Linked DNA regions of Homo sapiens: region 1 is linked to region 2. The links come from fine-mapping of genetic effects on gene expression. Tissue or cell type: whole blood. Region 2 holds a variant in brackets; the other region holds the start of a gene. All regions are shown on one strand. Distances are from middle to middle. Region 1 holds the start of RAMP1 (receptor activity modifying protein 1). Region 2 overlaps RAMP1 (receptor activity modifying protein 1).

The links. PIP is the estimated chance that this variant, and not a neighbour inherited with it, causes the effect.
Region 1: RAMP1 starts here. The variant in region 2 is fine-mapped to the expression of RAMP1 in whole blood (INTERVAL, PIP above 0.99).

What each region holds. Positions count from the first base shown.
Region 1 is chr2:237,854,845-237,864,940 of GRCh38, reverse strand. It overlaps RAMP1 (receptor activity modifying protein 1), which reads right to left and starts at 5,318. Exons shown (of 3, transcript NM_005855.4): 1 at 5,214-5,318. The coding sequence starts at 5,265. RefSeq lists enhancers at 5,931-6,717, 6,718-7,506.
Region 2 is chr2:237,888,583-237,898,678 of GRCh38, reverse strand. The region is part of intron 2 of RAMP1 (receptor activity modifying protein 1); the gene reads right to left. Among named protein-coding and RNA genes, the nearest start is that of RAMP1, 34 kb to the right of the region's middle. RefSeq lists enhancers at 2,808-3,686, 1-3,953 and a silencer at 9,335-9,535. The variant G/AAG (reference allele first, on the strand shown) is at 4,709.

The DNA.
Region 1 (10,096 bases), 34 kb after region 2:
AGCCCTCTTCCCCACCATGCTTCAGTCAAAAAGGCTTCCAGGAACTTCCAAAGCAGGGCCTTTGCACAACCGTCCTTGCCCTCTGCCCTCTGGACTGTGCTGCCGCTGCTCCTCAGGGCTGTGCTCCGTGGTCTCCTGTTTATTTCCTGCTGCATTTAAGTAGCACCACATGTCTACATGGTTGACATGCAGCAGGGCTGCCCCACCCTGGCACTATGGACATTTGGTGTGGGATCATCCTCTGGGGGAGCTGCCCTGGGTTGTGTAGGACACCCTACTGTAGCAGGCTGCTCTGCACCCCTGTCCTTTGCCCCCTCCGAGTCCTGACCCTGGGTGTCCCACGTGTGTGAGAGTCCTGACCCTGTGTGTCCCGTGTGTGAGGTGGCAGATGGGTGTTTCCAGGAGAAACGGTGCAGCGCTTTCCCGGCATTCCCTCATCCATCCACCTCCCCCGCTTCCCTCTCACAACTGTCTCCTCCAGAGGCAAGAAAATCCCTGCAGAGAGAGCCACCCCGGGTGTCAGTCACCAAGTGTCCATTGAAGAGGCAATGCTTTCTAGGCTTCTTCCCCTCCCGGCCTGGGGCCAGGGTACCTGACAGCGGCAGGCCTTACGAAGCAAACACGCGCATGGTTGGGCAAATCACTGACTTTTCTCCTCCCAGGTGGTGTCAGACTCAAGACAGTCCTTCCTGAGACTCGTGTGGGGATACGTGGTCCGGGAGAACAGGGGGCAGGGCTTCCTGGGCAAGCTGTACCCCACCCCCTGGAGTGAGCTGGCCCAGGCCACGGGCCAGGTCACTCTGCCTCCCCTCCTGCCCCCGTGGTTTCCCAGAACTCTCAGCTAATTCAGGAGCTGCTTCCCCGGAGCCAAGGCCTGGGGGCCTGAACATGGCATGTGTGGGGGTGACACTAACGTACCCTGAGGGTCTGCTGGGGGCACAGAGGAAGACCCCCTGTCCCTGGGGTGGTGGGTGGGGTGGGGGTTCTGGGAGGCTGGGCAGTTGTCCCCGTGAGGGGTGGAGGTGGTGCTGACCCTGGCGGAGGGCACAGTGGACAGCCGGGGCCTGGGGTTTTGGGATTCTGGTTCTCGGTCCCAGAGAATCCACCATGTGACTGCACATGGGAGGGAGTGAAGCACTCTCGGAGCACGGGGAGGAGTCACCGAGAGAGCTGAGAACGTAGAGTCGGGGGGCCTGTGACTCAGGCCCATAGCCCTGCACTCCTGCCACATCTGGCTAGTGTGTCCCCCTGGACCCTGCTCCAACAAAGCCACCCAGAAGCCGTGATTTAAAAGATGGTTAAAGTGATGCCTTTCGGATGCCCCAGAAATTACTGAAATAAACCATCTTAGGAAAAAAATATTTTTCCTGAACAGAATAACATCATTCGGTGAAGTGAGTACGATTTTGTTTGGGCTGGGAGCCCTCCTATGGTGGCCGTGTTGACGCATCCTCCTCACTAAGGAGAAACAGGTCCTCCAGGAACATCACCCAGCTGAGAGTCCTCCTGTTCTGGAGCAGAGAGGACTGGGGACAAGGACATCCCTCCAGGGCTTCATATGTCTGCTGTGGGATGTGTCAGAGGTAGGCAGGGGGTATGGCAGGCTGGGAACTGAACAGTGCCCTGGCAGCACCGTCTCTGCCTCTTCATTTGCCACCAAGAAACTGGTGGGCTGGGGCAGTGGGCACATGGTCCAGCAAGTGCTGGAGCCACCAGGGCCACTGTAGCCCGGGCTCCCCTGTCCCCTTCCCAGCTCCCACTGTCTTCCTGGCTGCAGCACCTCTTCTTTCAGGAGGCCTCCCTGGGTCCCCAGTGGAGGAGGAGGCTCTTGGGCAGGATTCCCACAGTCCCCCAGGTACGCCATTCTCGGAGCCCCCTGAGCCTGCCGTCCCTGCAAGGGACAGACACCCATCTCAAACGTTATGGGTCACATGATGGAAATGTGTACCCCATGAGCTCGATCTAGGGGCTCAAAAGGCTTCAGGAGTGCTCTATGTCATGGACAGGTACTCCCCCATGGCTCACAGGGTAGACTGTGGCAGCCCCACTCAGATCCAGCCTGGAGGAAAGACGCAGCTTTTCCCCGTGGTTCCAGCAGAACACTGACTGTCCAGCCTGCGGCCAGTCTCCTCCCTGGGACCATCTGGATGGCCAGGCCTGGCTCAGAGACCACTGAGGGCCAGCCCACCATACCACAAAGACCGTCAGGAAAGAGGGGTTCTAGGCCTGAGTTGGGGGTGGGGGCACTGGCAGGGGCACTGGCAGGCAAGCCCGAGGGGCTTCACTCTCTGGGCTCAGCATTTCCGCTGGAATTCACACTACACATGGCACCTGCATCACACAGTCAGCCAGACGCCAGTTGTAACTGATTAGAAGCTATGAAATGGGCGCATTCTGGGGAAAAAAATCAGGACAGACTTTTCCAACTAGCCTTAACTAAAGATTCCACCTAAAACATTTCCCGGAGCTGAATCTACCATTTGCACTGTGGATATAAATGTTTCTCAACAGCCCTGGCCTCGGACTGGTAATAAGCACGCTGACAGGCATGCGCCTGTGGAAGGAAGACAAAAATCCAGAAATTTCTTCCTGCAGCTAGACACACAGAGAGGGTAAACAAACACACTGAGTTGATTAACAAATAAGAATCCTTCAGATTTGGACTTTGGCATGAGAACTGTGTCCAGATTTAAAACCGCATGGCAATCTGAAGCAGTCACATAGCATTTCCTGTGATGTCCCTGTCATTCCAATTCTACTTGTATTTATATAAAGTCATACATTTCAATTAATGTTGCAGCCATTAAAAAAACCCCTGGCTCCCACGTGACAGCCAAGGAAGGCATGCGTTTCCTAGGACAGGTGACTGAGTTCATGTGTGACAGCACCAGCCAGCATTCCCTGAGTGAAGATGGACTCGAAAAACCAGGGGCTTCTAACGCATCCTTCTTTCCTGGTTAACGAACAGCTTTTCGGTGTCTATACACAAACTTTTCAGAATGCATGTAGAGTCTCCAGTAAACAGAAGAGTACACAGGATGCTCAGAGGGAAAAGAACTATATATGGATCCTAAGTTTTTTTTTTTTTTGAGACGGAGTTTCACTCTTATCACCCAGGCTGGAGTGCAGTGGCATGATCTCAGCTCACTGCAACCTCTGCCTTCTGAGTTCAAGCGATTCTCCTGCCTCAGCCTCCCAAGTAGCCGGGATTATAGGTGCCTGCCACCATGCCTGCCTAATTTTTTTTGTATTTTTAGTAGAGACGGGGTTTCACCATGTTGGCCAGGCTGGTCTTGAATTCCTCACCTCAGGCGATTCACCCACCTCAGCCTCCCAAAGTGCTGGGATTACAGGCGTGAGTCACCATGCCTGGCCGGATTATGAGATTCTTAATAACTACCTAAGACAAATAGCTTGATTGTAAAATTGTCACAGATAAGTTCTTAAACCTGTAAACTAGAGTACTTAAAAAAATTCCACATTGCCATTCTTGGTAGCAAAATCTTCATCACCAAGGAGACCTGGCTAGTGCTACAGCTTGGGAAGGAAACAGCCTGTGCTCAGTAATTCTACTAATTACAGCTGGGCTCCAATGACATTAATTTACTGATAACCTCATAAAGTTTTGTTTGTTCTTCCAAGAGATAACATTAGCCAGGCCACTCAAAATAACGTTAAAATTACAGGACTTTGGACTTTCGGCAGAACATGAATAGTTTTCTCGGTAAACAAGGAAGGTCTTTATATGTGATCGTGACATAGTGTTTTATTTACACAAGCTTTAGAGGGTTCAGCCTCTGGACACTAGTAAAGAACGTTTATTTATTTGGTTATTTATGTAAAAAATATTCCACAACCCAGCTCTCTGCCTTGCTAACAAAGAAATGTTTGTTTCTTAGTAAATGAAAACAGTGAAGGCCATGTCAAGCCAAATGGAGAGAATAAAATTACTGCGAGATTCTGCTTTCCACGTAACTTCAGCCAAAACTCTAAAGTGGCAAGATCCGCTTTCAGATTATATTATATCGGCCTCTGAGGATTCTATGCAGATCTGCCACCCCTTGGAGAGGTTTACAAATAGGGAACAGAAATCCATGGCTCCCAAGAAGCCCTGGCCCCTCTCCTCGCTGGGCCACGAACCACTCCCCCAGCTACAACAGCGCCGGTGGTCCCTGCTTGCCCAGTGCCAGCGCCAAAGAGGTCTTGTGCGGCAGGTGCCTCTGACCAACATCACTGTTTCCGGGGAAAGGCCACACATACCAGAAACAACTGCTCCGGCCTTCCCAGGGACACTGGGTTCTCCCACGCCAGTAACCTATTCACAGTTTCCGTTAAAAGGTAGCTAAATACACGGAATAATGCAATAGCCAAAGCGGTTTAGAAGGGGCTTGAGTTAGCATTTTAGGAACACATTACAGACAAGGGAAGTGAACAGCACCGTTTCTTGCCGAGTGTGTGGCCAGTTCCTGTGGCCATGAGGCTGCCGCTAATCTCCACTTCTCCCTCCAAGTGGAAAGCCAAACGTGTTCCACCACTTCACCAAGGGACCCGTCCTTCTTTAAATTTCTATTAGCCAAAAGTGCCAAGTTAACAAGCAAACCAAAAGAAAAAAGAAAAAAAGCGATGGAAGTGTCCCGAAAAGGGCTGGCCTCATTTCTGCAAAAGACGTGATTTGCAAACAAGCAACTGCTGCAGGCGACAGATTGTCAGTGTTGACTAATTTCCATACAAACCGGCTGTGGTTCTGATTCCCGAACACTGCGTCTTCTGCAAGGTGCCCGTCTGCAGGTTTTGCAACGCGGGACGGCCTAGGGAAGGGAGCCTGCGCTGGCAGTCACCGCGGCGCACAGCCTGAGAAACGAGGTGCGGGGCTGGGGAACCCCGCGTCCTGTTTTTCCTTCTGAAAACTAGTTCTCCAGTGTGCAGGGCTGACTCACCCCACGCTTTCCAGAATGCCCGCTCTCCGACGTCCCCAAAGCCGTCCCTTCCCCGGCGAGAAGCGCAACACCGGTCCGCGCCCTCCGCCTCCCCTGTGCCCTGGGGCCTCCCGCCTGGAACCGGGGCGGCCCGCGTTCAAGGGCAGCGGATCTGTGCGCCCGCGGCGCCCGCCCCCACCCGCTCCCACCCGCTCCCACCCGCTCCCCTCCTCTCCCCTAGAGGACACCGGCTGGCCAGGGGAAGGGAGCTCGGCCGGGACCCCTGGACCTACTCACCCAGGAGCAGCCAGAGGCCGCGCCGCGGGAGGCGGCACAGGGCCCGGGCCATGGTGCACAGCGGTGCCGAGTCGAGTCCGCTCGCCACGCGCCCCGCTGAGGACTGAGCCCGCCGCGGCGCGGGCCCGGAGGAGACGCGCCGGGGGCGGGAGCGGGCGCGGGAGCGGTGGGAGGCGGCGGCCGCGCGGCCCGGCCCACTGCGGCTCCCCGCGTGGGTGCCAGGGCCGGGGGCGCCCAGGGCCGGTAAAACTTTGCAGGGGGGCCGCGCGGGCGTCTCCAGGCCCCTCCCGGGGGGCGGCACACTTGGGGTCCCAGGAAGGCCTCCTGAAATGTTCTCCGAGCAAATAAACACTTTTTAAACTAGGGAGGGTCTCCTAGACGACTCAGCGTGAGGGGCACCTTGGTCTCCACCTGGGGATCTTCCCCTCCTCCTCCTCCGAGGTTCTGGGCGTTCCTGCCTGGTGTTTGCCTTGCAAAAGGCTAAGATCTCCCAGCCTTATCTACCTCTCCGCCCAGGTGCAGGCGCTGGGGAGCGTGGGGGGCAAAACTCGCCACCGCGCCTGGCGAGACCCGTAGTAACCCAAAATGGCGCACACTTACCAGGCCCTGGAATGCTGCTCCAGATCTGCAGGATGAGTGGGTGGGCAGAGGCGGGGACAGCACGGCAGGTGAACAGAAGCCGTGGGGCTGGAGGAACAGGGCTCTTTGGGGGGATTGAGATGGCCTGGGAGTCTTGCTGTTGATGGGTAGGTAGCGAGAGCCTGGCAGGAGGTTGTGAGGGCCTGGCCACAGAGTCTTGAGATGAGGTTTGCTTTGGTGGCACTCTGGCAGCTGCATGGAAAACTGATGGGGGATCTTGGGTACATTCGTTTATGTAAAGTGGTGAGAGGAGGGCGCTCTGGAGATGGGCCGGGGAAGCCTGCGGAGGAGCAGGTTTTGGGAGGCACAGGCCTGGCCTCTCGGCATTACTGGTGGCTGGATTTCACTTGCAGTGGTTCCTTCTTGTATTATCCTGTTCCGAGAACTCTTAGCAACAGTAAATTTATACTTGTGCTAAGGAATGCACCACTGCCCTTGGAGGGGGAAGAATCACCACCCTGGTGCTGCGGCCACAGCTGTCTCTTTTGTGGTGGAAGCTGCAAGCGCACAGCATTGCTGAGTGACCATCGTTTTCTCCTAGGAAAGGGAACAGTCTGTGGCTGAGAGGCTGCTGCCACCTGCAGTAAGCTCAGAGAAGGGGAGACAGCTGACAGCGAGGTCATCCACTGGTTCTTCTAACACAGGCTGGGAGGGCACTCAGGGCCAGCATGCCTACCACCTGTGCAGGGGCCCCAAGTGTTCTGAGAGTGAGGGGTGAGATGGTGGGGGAGGGCACACATTCTCTTGACTTGATTAGCCCTTGTTCTTGAACCCTAGGAGATACACCCCATTGGGTGGCCTGGCATCCCTACTTTCTTCATTTAACAGACATTTGTGTCCCTATGTGCAAGACACTGTTAGATCGACAAGCCCTGCCCTTCAATTGGTGAATCTAGGGGGTGACCTCTAAGACTCTCAATAACATGAGCGCCACAATACAGGAGCCACCCGGAACAAGGGACACTCGCCTCAGCTGCAGTGCAAGTAAGGAGACAAAGGATTCTGGACAAAATGCAGCCCAGGCAGTCCTGAGGGCTGGGTGGAGAGAAGGGCACAAGGGAAATGCAGGCCCGAGCACAGGCCTGGCAGCCAGAGGCCGTGCCATGTGAGAGCAGCACAGCTAGTGGGGAAGGGTGGCTGCCAGCACAGCCCTGGGACAGGGCCACCGTACATCCTGCACTAGGCGATGGCCAGTCATAGTGGGGGAGAAGAACCTGCATCTTTCTGCAGCCATCACTCGCCCTCCATATCCAGGGACTCTGGCTTGAGCCACCCTTTCTACTTGTAGCTTGTGGACTTTGGCTGCATGTTTTTGGTTGGCAACTGGGACTCCTCTTTCATCAGGCTCAGCAGGAGTCTTTCTTCCCAACGTTTTCTCTTTGAAGCTTGACTGCAAGGAGGCAAGGCCAGAGGCCCCTGTCACTGCTGTTTTCTCAACACCCCCTAAAGGATACATTTTCCTAAGAAGACAAAGCCTATTTCTCAAGTTCACATGCTTTAGAAATTCACAGTTCTCTGGAGAATGCTGAAGTAAGGCACACACCTAGAGGCATGTTCTCTCCTAATGATTTTCCTGTCTGTACCTTGGGTCTAAGTAAGACATTCCTTAGCAACTACTATGGGCTTCCCGTCTTCAAAAGTTGTAGTCTGATGTATCTGTATTTCTAATTGGTCATAGGTAGCATGGAAAATCATTCCTCTCCCAGGGTACCTCAATCTAGAGGGGCATTAGGTTAAACAATAGAAGAGATTAGAAAATGGCCAAGTGCTTTACTGCATACACAGTAGGGCTAAAGATACAATCAAAGCCTGGTCAACACTGCTAAAAATTCACTATTAACATAAGATTCCTGCTTCCAGCCGAGATGAAGTTACAGGGACTGGACTCACCTTCCCATCTTAAACTAAAAAACTGGACAAAATGTATGAAACAACAGTTGTCACAGTGGACCACAAGAAGTGCAGGGACCCCTGAGAGCAGGGAAACAAATAAGGTGAGTGCTACAACTGCTCACTGCCTGGAGTTTGCAGACCACAGATGGAGAAAGGAAACCCAAAGAGAGTCTGGGGAAGCCAGGCAGTTAACGCTGGCAGGGCATAGTACCAGAGAGGAAAGAGCTGCGCAAAGAATGCGCTTGCGAGATCACAGAGGGTCCCACTTGAGTCTCAGCCCACACATCTAAGGACACTACCCAAGGGAAAAGAGCCTAAGAGCCCACACCCAGCTGGGAATAGTTCCAGTTCCCACCAACCATAGTGGAAAAATCTTGAAATACACAGAACATCAGAGCATAATTAGAAGGGCAAGTCCCTCTCTGTAGTCAGTAAAAATTACAAAGGCTATTCTGGTGCTGCCTAACAAAACTTAAAAGCAAGAACTAACAGGAGCAAATGATTTCCAAGTAGCTATTACATCCCGTAACTTAAAAACAATAAAAGAACAAAGCATCAGAGAGCCATGAGGCAACTCCAGGTGGCAACTCTAAGGTGTAACTGGAGCCCCTGGAGGAAGATGGGTGGGAAATATGTGAAAAACCACTATGTGGAACATTTTCTATTAACCCATGAGCCAAGAACATCCCCAAACTCCAAGCACAAAAATCATTTAGAAAAATATGTGAAAGCACATCACGATCAAATTGCCTAAAGCCAGTAATAAAGAGAAAACCTTAAAAGCAGCCAGAGAGAGAAGACATTACGTATAGCAGGGGTCCCCCAACCCCACAGGAGTACCAGATCATGGCCTGTTAGGAACCTGGCCTCACAGCAGGAGGTGAGCAGCGGGTGAGCTAGTGAAGCTGAGGTCCGCATCTTGTTAGATCAGCAGTAGCTGATCTAACCCTACCGTGAACTGTTCATGCAAGGGATCTAGGTTGCACTTCTTATGAGAATGATGATCTGAGGTGGAACCGTTTCATCCCTAAACCATCCCCCTCTCACCCCATGGAAAAATTGTCTTCCACAAAACCAGTCCCTGGTGCCAAAAAGGCTAGGGACTGCTGATGTACAAAACACAGGTAAGGGTGACAGAAGAGTTCTCATGGGATATAATGCCACCAGAATACAATGGAACGTTTTTAAGTACTGGAAGGAAAAAAGCATCAAATATTCTACAGATAGTTTTTCAATAACTTGCTGATATGAAGGGGAAGACTCCACTGGTGTCCTCACTATCAGGCCTGCAATTTAAAGGCTGAACTTCAATCATTATCAATAATGAATCAGTGGTTCTGAAGATAACATGCTTATAAGCAATAACAACTTAGTTCTGTGAGTTGTTTAAATCGTGCAATTGCTGGATAAACACTAACAAAAACAGCAGTATCTCAGGGAACTCAGGTTCATCAACTATCAATTTTTCAAGTCCTGCAGGAAGTCCCACTGTTAAAACCAACACACTTGCAAGTAGCTGAGAACAGAAGTTGCCTATCTCCCCTATTCCCCCAAGAAACAAAACAAACAAAAAACAAGAAGTGAAAAATAAATTCTATATAAAACTGTCCTCAGCATTACTTGGAGAATTTTCCAACTGCAAAGGAGCTGAGTAACAGGGAAAAAATTCCCACCAAATCCCACTACACAACTCACACTCCTATACTACCCTCAGCCAGCCACATGCTTAGTGTGAGCAAAGGCAGACTGAGAAAAATCGTGGAGCCAAGAGGGAGGCTGATGAACAGGCCTACGGGTGATATGAAACAATCTCCAGAAAGACGAACTCTTAACACTCTAGACGTGAAAAATTTAAAATACCCCAATACCATAGAGACAAACAAGAGACAAGTCCATCTAGAGCTACTGCAGAAAACCGGGACATGAAATGTCAGACATACAAACTGAAGGAACCCCTAACCTCTAGGAGACTATATTACAAATGTGTAACATAGCCACCCTGGGTGGATCAGGAATAAAAGACATAACCTAAGCACATTTAGACAAAAGAGCAAAAGACAAAAGAACTGTACACAAATGACGTACTCCAGTTAGTAAATCTGTTTCTTACAGGGCCATGGTTTAGCAACGCTGTAATGACTTTACGTGTATAGTAGGATTGAGCAAATAAATACATAAATAAATTGTGAATAACGTGAGCCAGTTTTCTCACTATTGGTATAAGGTAGAAATAAGGGACAGAAATTCAAAGTATCAGTATGAACACACACAGATATATGGTGCTGATGACTAGCTGTAAATACAGGGACAAAATACAAGTGTGTCTGTTTGCTTGGATTAATACACACGCA
Region 2 (10,096 bases):
CACTTCTGCCCAGCACTGCTGGAGGCAGCAGAGAACTGGGCACCTTTTGTTTTTCTTGACACTGGGGAAATGTATAAGGAAGTCTTGTTAACTGTTTGATGAAAAGCACTTCAGCACACTGTGCTGGCCTGGGAAATGTGTGCTGGGCCAGCAGGCTCTGAGCCAGCTGTGCACACCTGGAACTCCTACGGGTGAGTGGCTGCTCCCATCCCCCTGGGACTGGCAGCACGCGTGAGGGAAAGACGGATATTGTACTATCAAACCCTTCCTAAATCAGGCTGGTCAGAGAGTACAATCAAACTAGGGAAAAGGCCAAGCATTAGAAGTCCTATGTACCTGTGCCAGCCCAGGGATGCCTACACATTTGACCTACTGCATTGCTGAGACAGGAATGCTTTGAAATAAGTGTCATCACTGCATGCAAATGAATATGTTAAACAGGAATTTTCCCCAGGCTCTGACTATGGTTTATCTATTTAAGTTGTATTAACAGGGACTTCTGACATCTTAGCAAAGCCATTTTCCCAACAGCATAAGGGGAAATGCCAACTCCATCCCTTTCCAAAGAATTACAGCATCTGGCCAGGCACAGTGGTTCCCGCCTGCAATCCCAGCACTGTGGGAGGCTGAGGAGGGTGGATCACCTGAGGTCAGGAGTTTGAGACCAGCCTGGCCAACATGGTGAAACCCAGTCTCTACTAAAAATACAAAAATTAGCTGGGCGTGGTGGTGCACGCCTGTGGTCCCATCTACTCAGGAGGCTGAGGCAGGAGAATGGCTTGAACTCGGGAGGTGGAGGTTGCAGTGAGCTGAGGTTGCACCACTGCACTCCAGCCTGGGAGAAAGAGCGAGACCCCATCTCAAAAAACAAACAAACAAACAAAAAACAAAACCCCCCCCCAAAAAACCAAAACAAACAAAAAAAGAAGAATGACAGCATCCACGAGAGCATGTGTTTCTGAGGTTTCCACTAAGACACGTGGATCTGTAAACAAGAAGCCTCACCATAGGCTTCTTGCAAATACTTCGCCAAATCATGGAAGCCAATTCCATTCCACACCTTTGTTACCAGCTAAATATTGCACTTTACCACTGACTAGGTGCTTGCTGAACAAGGAGGACAAAGGCCTCTCTCTTGCAGGAAAAGGAACAACATGAATAACGCACCAAAGAAAGAATCTTGGGAGGGTTCAAGGAAACAGGAGGAAGACAGATGAAACGGGGCTCAGTGTTCTCGCTGCTGTGGAGGAGGCCACAATTCCTCCTGCAACACTCGCAGTGACTGTAGAGCATGCTGATGAAGCCGGAGAAAATGGCCAGCCCTCTCTGCACGTTGAGCAGGGAAGGCAGACACGGGACCACCTGTGGCCTTATTCTCACCTCCCCTCGCTCATGGCCTGTCTGGGCCTCAGGCTCTGTCCTGTCCCATGTCATCTGCTCTTTCAGTCTCCCTCTTTCCTGGCCTGAAGTGAAGCTGGTTCTCCCATTCCTGGGATGGAGGCTGAGGCCCAGGCGGGGCCCGTGGTTGCATGCGGGGCTCTGGGGTCCACCTGGACGGATGCACACCTCATGATAGCTGAGTGCCACACGGGAGCATCCGGTGAGCTGCAGGCATGTAAAAGAGGGACCCACTGAGGCTGGGGCAGGTGACCCCACCATCCCCACGGACAGCACATCACACCCCCAGGACATTTAAAGGCCTGGCCCCTCTGCTGTCCAAAAGTCTAAGAGGCTGGGTGCAGTGGCTCACGCCTGCAACCCCAGCACTTTGAGAGGCCAAAACAGGAGGATCGCTTGAGCCCAGGAGTTCCAGACCAGTCTGGGCAACACAGAGAGACTCCCCCATCTCTACACAAAGTTTAAAAGTTAGCCAGGAGTGGTGGTGTGTGCCTATAGTCCTGGCTACTTGGGAGGCTGAGTCAAGAGGGTTGCTTGAGTCCAGGAAGTCAAGTCTGCAGTGAGCTAAGATCATGCAACTGCATTCCAATCTAGGCGGCAGAGTGAGACCCTGCCTTAAAACAAAACAAAACAAAGTCTAAGAAAATACTAAGACCTGTTTCCCCGCGTGAGTGTGCTTCTCACATCACCCGAGGGCAGGTGTTCTTACCCCCTCCTTACAGAAAAGGGCGCTTGCTGAGGTGATGGGGAGGTCCCTGAGGCGGCAGTGCAGACTGGGGAACGGTCCAGGGGTCTGCCTGGGGGCTGCTTGGCCCTCCCTGGGCCTGGCTTCCTCTGCCTCCCTCCCCTTCTCCTGCTATGGTGGCCCCAGGCCGGGGAGGAATCTGGGCGCCTCTGCCCATGCTGGGAGAAGCGAGAGGTTTCTAAATCCATCCCTGGCTCCATGTGCAGCCAGGTCTGGCACCAGACACAGCCTGGGAGCTGCCAAGTCAGGCTCCCCACAGAGCAGCCACAGCAGGCGGGCGGACGGGCATAATACCTCCTCTGAGAACAGGCCTGGGCAGCGCCCTGGCTCCTGGGGCTGCCAAATGAAGTGCAGTTTTAAAATGCAGTGGGTGTCCCAGGCAAAGTCACAGACTGTCCTATGCTGGCTGCATCTGGGCCTGAGCAGGGGTTGCATTGCGTCCCAGGGTCCGAGGATCAGGGAATGCTGGGAGATCGCTGAGCTGTGCCCATTGTGGGCCGGGTGCTGAGGGCTCACTACAACCCCTGGGAGGTGTCCTGGCACCCCTGTGGGGACACCCAGGTCTAGCTGCCCAGCTGTGTGTGATGGGGCTGAGACCACACTCAGGCCTGTCCAGGCCCCAGGGTTCCCACCTCACGGGGACATGGGTGTGACATGTGTCCGAGTCTCAGGATTAAGCATGACAGCCGGCAAGCTATATTTGGATGCTAACACCCTGGGGGCATTGTCCTTGTGAAGCAACGCTGGCCTGGAGGCTGGACGGGCTCTGCCTTCCTATCCACCCCTGGTCTCAGCCCCAGCCAGCCGGCCCAAAGCATACTCACCCTCTCTGTACAAGAAACTCTCCCCCGATGCCACTAGACTCTTCAGGGACCCCTGCCGGGCTTCACGAGCCTTCAGCGACCCATCCTGCCCACCCACGGGGCGCCCTGCACCATGCTGGTCCCTGTTCGGGCATCCCACCAACTGGCCGCCTCCATCGGGGTAGCAGCCTTGCCACCCCTGCCCTCCTGCCACAATCTCACCTCGTTTGGAGCTCAGGGCAACACTGAGTGTGGGGAAAGGCCAGGCCAGGAAACATCCCAACGTGGGGTGTTCACTGTGGGGGTTTTGAGGAGTTGGCAGTTACGGAGCCTCGGTGTTTTCACCTTTAAAATGGGTTCAGTGATCCCTGGCTCACAGCAGCAGCGTGGTGAGAACTCCCTCAGAGGGCCACCACCATGCCATTCTCTGATGGGAGCCCATGACCCCCCCACAGGACCCCTTTGCACAGCAGGGGGTGGGCATGTGACTCGCGCTGCCCTGCCTTTGGATGGGAGCCCCACACAGGCAGGCAACACGTGGCCTCCTGTCTCGCTCCTGACTCGCTCTACAATCGCCACCATAGGGCTGACCTCAAGGGAGGGTGAGGGGCTCCAGAGGCCATGGTGCTGGGGGGCCGTGGCTCCAGGAGGGAGGGGGAGGTCCTGCCCTGCTGGGCCCTTGGTGGCTGGCACCATTGGCTAGGTGCCTGCTAAGTGCTCAGCAAATGGCTGCTGAGCTGAATCAGGTATCTGGATTCTGAAGGGTACCCTGCTACCAAGGTGCCTTCACCTAACTTGTCGAAGGAGAACCACAACCAGATAGGAGTAGGAACAGGCCACTCCTGTTCCCCAGGGCTGGCAACGCTTTGTCTCACCTCCTATGAACACGTGTCCCTTTGTTCCGTCTTTGAACGTGTTTGTGCACCACGGGGAGCCACATTCACCCGAGCAAGGGAGAAGGTTCCAGCCGTCCAGGGGCCTCTCCACAGTTCAAAAGCCACCTGGACAGCCTGGGCCTTGGAACTGCCACAGTGCACCAGGAGGATGAAGGTGCCAATAAATAAGTGTGGTGGGGACCCATAGAGCCTCAGCCCCGCCTGGCTTCTGGGATGGAGGGGTGGCAGGGGGGTCTCACCCCCTAGCCAGGTCCATCTGGGGCGGGGGATTCAGGCGCTGGTGCTGCCTGTCAGCAACATTCCCTGGTGGTCCTGGCTGCCCCAGGTCTGAGGACGTATGGCCTGCGGCTGCCCAAAGGGCCCTTCCACAGCCAGCCTCGCCCTGGCCTAGCTCCCACCCCAGCACTGCCCCCGGCTCCTCCTGCCTCCTTCCCACAATGGCAGAAATCTGGCCTCCCTGTAAAGAGGTGAGTTAATGTGTCCATTAGGCTTGGGGATAAAGGAAACTTTAATTCACTGCAGTATAATTAGTTTCAATTACAATATCCTAATTAAAAACTACTTTAGGCCGGGTGAAGTGGCTCACGCCTGTAATCCCAAGACTTTGGAGGGCCAAGGTGGGCTGATCACTTGAGGTCAGGAGTTCAAGACCAGCCTGGGCAACATGGCGAAATCCTGTCTCTACTAAAAATACACAAAATTAGCTGGGCATCATGGCATGCACCTGTAGTCCCAGCTTCTAGGGAGGCTGAGGCACAAGAATCACGTGAACTTGGGAGGCGGAGGTTGCAGTGAGCTGAGATCACGCCACTGCACTCCAGCCTGGGTGACAGAGTGAGACTGTCTCAAAAAAAAAAAAAAAAAAA[G/AAG]AAAGTATTTTTATTTTTACTTATTTTTTTGAGACAAAGTTTTGTGCTTGTTGCCCAGGCTGGAGTGCAGTGGCACAATCTTGGCTCACTGCAACCTCCACCTCCTGGGTTCGAGAGCAATTCTCTTTCCTCAGCCTCCGAGTAGCTGGGACTGCAGGTGCGTGCCACCACGCCCAACTGATTTTTGTATTTTTAGTAGAGACAGGGTTTCGCCATGTTGCTCACACTGGTCTCGAACTCCTGACCTCAAGTGATCCACCTGCCTTGGCCTCCCAAAGTGCTGGGATTACAGGTGTGAGCCACCATACCCGGCCGAAACTACTTTAGAAAGAGTAAAAAGCAGAATTTGTATTACAGGAAGTAAAAACAGATTATCTGGAAAAATGTATCTGGAAAAAGGATGTAACATGTACAGGTGGAAACAGTGCAAGATATGACAAAGAAGTGAAAGAAGGCAAAAATAATTCCACTGGAGCACAGAGGGGACAGAGGAGGGTGCCGGAGGAACCATGTCCGGAAACCTCAGCTATCGGGGAATGTCAGTGTCCGGTCCTGGAGAAAGGAGTCCGAGGAGGAAACTGCACTGCACACCAAAGCTTCTGCAGGCTTAACGAGGCCATCAGCAAAACAAGTTCTCACAAAATGTTTAAACCAAAAAGAATACTGCAAGCAACCACGCCAGGAAGGAGGAGGTCAGATTTTAAAAATATACATAAATCACAATCCCTTCTGCCTTCTCTGATGACATCCCAAACACCCAGAGACAATGGAACAACAGCTACAGGAACTTCACAGAACAAGGTTGCTCCTTGGAGATTTATTATCTTGCCAAGCTGTCACTCACGTTGCAAAGACGGCAGAGAGCTCCTTAGAAATTGTTGAATTCTGAGAATGTATTAATCACATGGCTTATTTCTAGGACCTACTTGAAATAATCTCCTGAATTTAAAAGGTAACATGTAAAAGGGAATGATGCTAGAAATAAGACACGCTTGAATTAACAACCTATTTGCAAAGATAAGTAAACAAGAGCCCTATCAGAGCAAGGGTTATTACTGATAAAAGTATGCAAATAGTGCAACTGTCAGAAAAACAGCGTAAAAATTAAAAACCAAATTACATAGAAGACAGAAAGGAAAAAGTAGGTTTTAGAACATTAATTGCAATCATTGAGGAGAAGGAAGAAGTGGGGGAGGGAGAGAAGGATGGAGAAGAGAGAGAGAGAGAGAGAGAGAAGAGGAAGCCCAAAACCCAGATTCCTGTCATCTCACACAGGGGAGGCCAAAGTGTGTGGTTGGACAATGTAAGATAATAAGTACAAGATAAGAACATCTGTTTGCTTCACATTTCATGGCTGGTTGAATGAAAAACAGCTTGCCAATATTTCAGTAATAATAGAAGAGAAAACACAGGCTGGGCACGGTGGCTCACACCTGCAATCCCAACACTTTGAGAGGCCAACATGGGAGGATTGCTTGAGCCCAGGAGTTCAAGACCAGCCTGGGCAACACAGTGAGACCCCATCTCTACAAAAAATAGAAACAATTAGGCAGATGATGTGGTGCATGCCTGTAGTTCCAGCTACTTGGGAGGCTGAGGTGGGAGGATCTCTTGGGCCCAGGAGGTTGAGGCTGCAGTGAGCCATGATCACACCACTGCACTCCAGCTTGTCTCAAAAAAAAAAAAAAAAAAAAGAAAGAAAGAAAGAAAAAACACATGGTGTTTCAACAATTGAGGGAAAAGAAAAGTAATCAGCATGGAAAGATAAACAATTAAGACAAAAATTGGAGTGCCTGAAGATTGAAAAAATACAACTTAATTTCCTGTGTTAAAAGGCTTGCCACTCTCCAGAAGAAAAAATGAAATCCAGCAATAAGCTGTGGGCAAGAGAGGTCATTAAAACAAAATAGGAAGACTAAAAAGAGTTACCAGTAAACTTCAAGTAGTTGAAAGGCTGGGATTCCAATGTTAATATATAGCAAAAAATAATTTAGAGCAAAAATGATTACATGTGATAAGGAGAGGTATCAGGATGAGAGGCATGGGTGGTGGCAGCATAATTACATGGAATCTAAATGCCATAAAGACAGAGCAAAACATATATGCAAATATCTCTGAGAAAAAAGAAGTAGAAATGATAAAAATATGATTATAAAATTAAAATACTTCATTATCAACTACATAAGAAATTCAGCAACACATAAAGGAGCTGAAGATCAAAACAAGGTAACATTAATGGTTGTTTTGGTGGGGATTAAATAGAACAAACAGATAATTTCTTCTTTTTCAAGTATTCATTGTATGTTCACAAAAAGTCATCATATACTAGTCTCAAATCAAATCTCCATAAAAATACAAAAGCAGAAATGATTCAGGCTACATTTCCTCCCTACGGCAAAAAAAGAGATTAAGAACAAACAGAAATAGAAATAGTATATTTTAAAATATACTTACCTAAGGAAAAAATTGTCTTGAGAAGAAAGTCAAGAAGACAATATCTGTCTGTTAAGAAAATACAATGGGCTGGGCGCGGTGGCTCACGCCTGTAATCCCAGCACTTTGGGAGGCCGAGGCAGGCGGATCACGAGGTCAGGAGATCGAGACCATCCTGGCTAACACGGTGAAACCCTGTCTCTACTAAAAATACAAAAAATCAGCCGGGCGTGGTGGCGGGCGCCTGTAGTCCCAGCTACTCAGGAGTCTGAGGCAGAAGAATGGCGTGAACCCGGGAGGCGGAGCTTGCAGTGAGCCGAGACCATGCCACTGCACCCTCACTCTGGGTGACAGAGTGAGACTCCGTCTCAAAAAAAAAAAAAGAGAATACAATGAAAAAAACTGACATATCAAAACCTATAGAAAGTGATGAATGAGGAAAGTCCTTAGAGAAACACATCACAGCCTTAAATGTCTTTATTATTTTCAAGAAAAGTGAGAAAAATGATGAACTAAGGATTGAAATCATATCTTAGGAAAGAAACAATTTTAAGAAAGGGAAAAGGGGGGAAGTGAGTGGTAAAAGTTAAAGCAAAAAAACTGAGAAAAGACACGGTGATGCAAAGTGTGGCCTATTTTCTAAAGACTACAAAACTGGGCATGTGCGGTTCATTAAACAGTGGCCTCTCAGTTCCTTTTGATGAATGAAATAGCATCTAAACAAAGAAAAAAAGGGGAAAGAAGAAACACAGCAAAAACAAAAGTGGAGGCATAAGCTTGAGTCTAAGGGATATTAAACACGTAAAGGAATACTATGCAGCATGTTTCAGTTAACTGAGAAATCTGAAGGACATAGACCAAATAAACACAGATGAAGATAACCGTTAAAACAAGAGCTAGAAAGTCAAAATAAATCAATAGTGGAGGAAGTAACTGGAGAAGGAAATCCCCCAAATTACTGAGGTTTGATGGTGTTAGTGATGAATTCATTCAAACTTCTAAGAAATAAGTAATTCTCACATCACAAATTATTTCTGGCTCGGTGCAGTGGCTCATGCCTGTAATCCCAGCACTTTGGGAGGCCGAGGCGGGTGGATCACTTGAGCCCAGGAGTTTGAGACCAGCCTGGGAAACACAGTGAAACCCCATTTCTACCAAAAATACAAAAATTAGCCAGGCGTGGTGGTGAGTGCCTGTAGTCCCAGCTACTCAGGAGGCTGAGGCAGGAGGATCACTTGAACCCAGGAGGTGGAGGTTGCAGTGAGCCAAGATCACACCACTGGACTCCAGCCTGGGTGACACAGTGAGACTCTGTCTCAAAAAAAAAAAAAAATTATTTCCCACCCTTGATTCTAATGGTGGGCTAGCATGTCTATCCCATTAGGCAAACGTGGTCCTAACCCTAAAACCTGATTAAGGAAACACAAAGAGGAAAATCCGGAGCTTCCTTATTCATCACTTTCTATACCCATTTTACTGGGGAGGCCGCAGAGGCTCACAGCGCTGAAGGAGGGACGCAGCCGGCGGGGTTTCTGCAGGCGGGCCCCACTTGGCACTGCATGCTTGGTCCCCAAGGTCCATGGTAGTTTTCCTACTATTCGCTAAAAAGCAGTATCAGGTAACAACCCATCAAACTGTAATCCCAGCACTTTGGGAGGCTCAGGCAGGAGGATTGCGTTAGCCCAGAATTCAAGACCTGCCTGGGTAACATAGGGAGACCTCATCTCTACAAAAAAATAAAAATTAGCTGGGTGTGGTGGCACATGCCTGTAGTTCCAGCTATTTGGGAGGCTGAGGTGGGAGGATTGCTTGAGCCCAGGAGGTCGGGGCTGCAATGACTTTTTATGGAATTTAGCAACATGATTCTTAAGTTCTTTTGGAAAAATAGGCAGAAAATATATCAAAGCATGCAAAACATAATGTAAAATATAATGAAAATGAAACATGGTAGGAGAGGCCTTCTAAATTGTAGGAAATATTGTAAAGTTGTGGTAATTTAAATGGCGTGGTACGACCCCAGAATATAAGTAAAAATTATTTCAAATAGACTCTAATGCACATAGGAAGCTATTATGTGTTAAATTAAGCAACACAAAACAATGGAGGTTGGCGACATTATTTAACAAATTCTGTTAGGATAATTGAGGTGGGAAGGAAATACATTTCTGTCCATCCACTGTGTTAAGAAGATACATATCATTTCAAAACACAGAACAACTACAAAGACACAGAACATAATCTTGTGGGCATATGACTCTCACAATTGAGACGACAGAGTCTGTGGACAGTTACAGCTGTGCGGAGGTCACACGGTCACTGACTGATGAGGGGTGAATGGGAGCATCCATGTGTTCACAGATTAGCTAATGAACGACAGTGTGGAAAATGAACATCAAAAGACACACAAACGAAACAAGAAAATATTTAGAGCACAATGGCAAATAGTTAATATATATATTCTTCAAGAATCTATGGCCGGGCAAAGTGGCTCATGCCTGTAATCTTGGGAGGCCGAGGCGGATGGATCACTTGAGGTCAGGAGTTCGAGACCAGCCTGGCCAACATGGTGAAACCCCGTCTCTATTAAAAATACAAAAAATTAGCTGGGCGTGGTGGCGGGTGCCTGTAGTTCCAGCTACTCAGGAGGCTGAGGTAGGAGAATCACTTGAACCCGGGAGGCAGGGGTTGCAGTGAGCCAAGATTGTGCCGCTGCACTCCAGCCTGGGCAAGAGAGGGAGACTCCGTCTCAAAACAAACAAACAAAAAAAAGAATTTGTAAAAGAAGATTAAAAATACCTCCAATGGGCATATGGGAAATCTCTGTACCTTCCTCTCAATTTTGCTGTGAACCTAAAACTGCTCTAAAAAATAAAGTCTTAAAAAAAGGAAAAAAGGGCAATGACTCACAGGACAAATAGGAAAGGTCATGGTGACGTAACTTGCACTTGAGAAAAA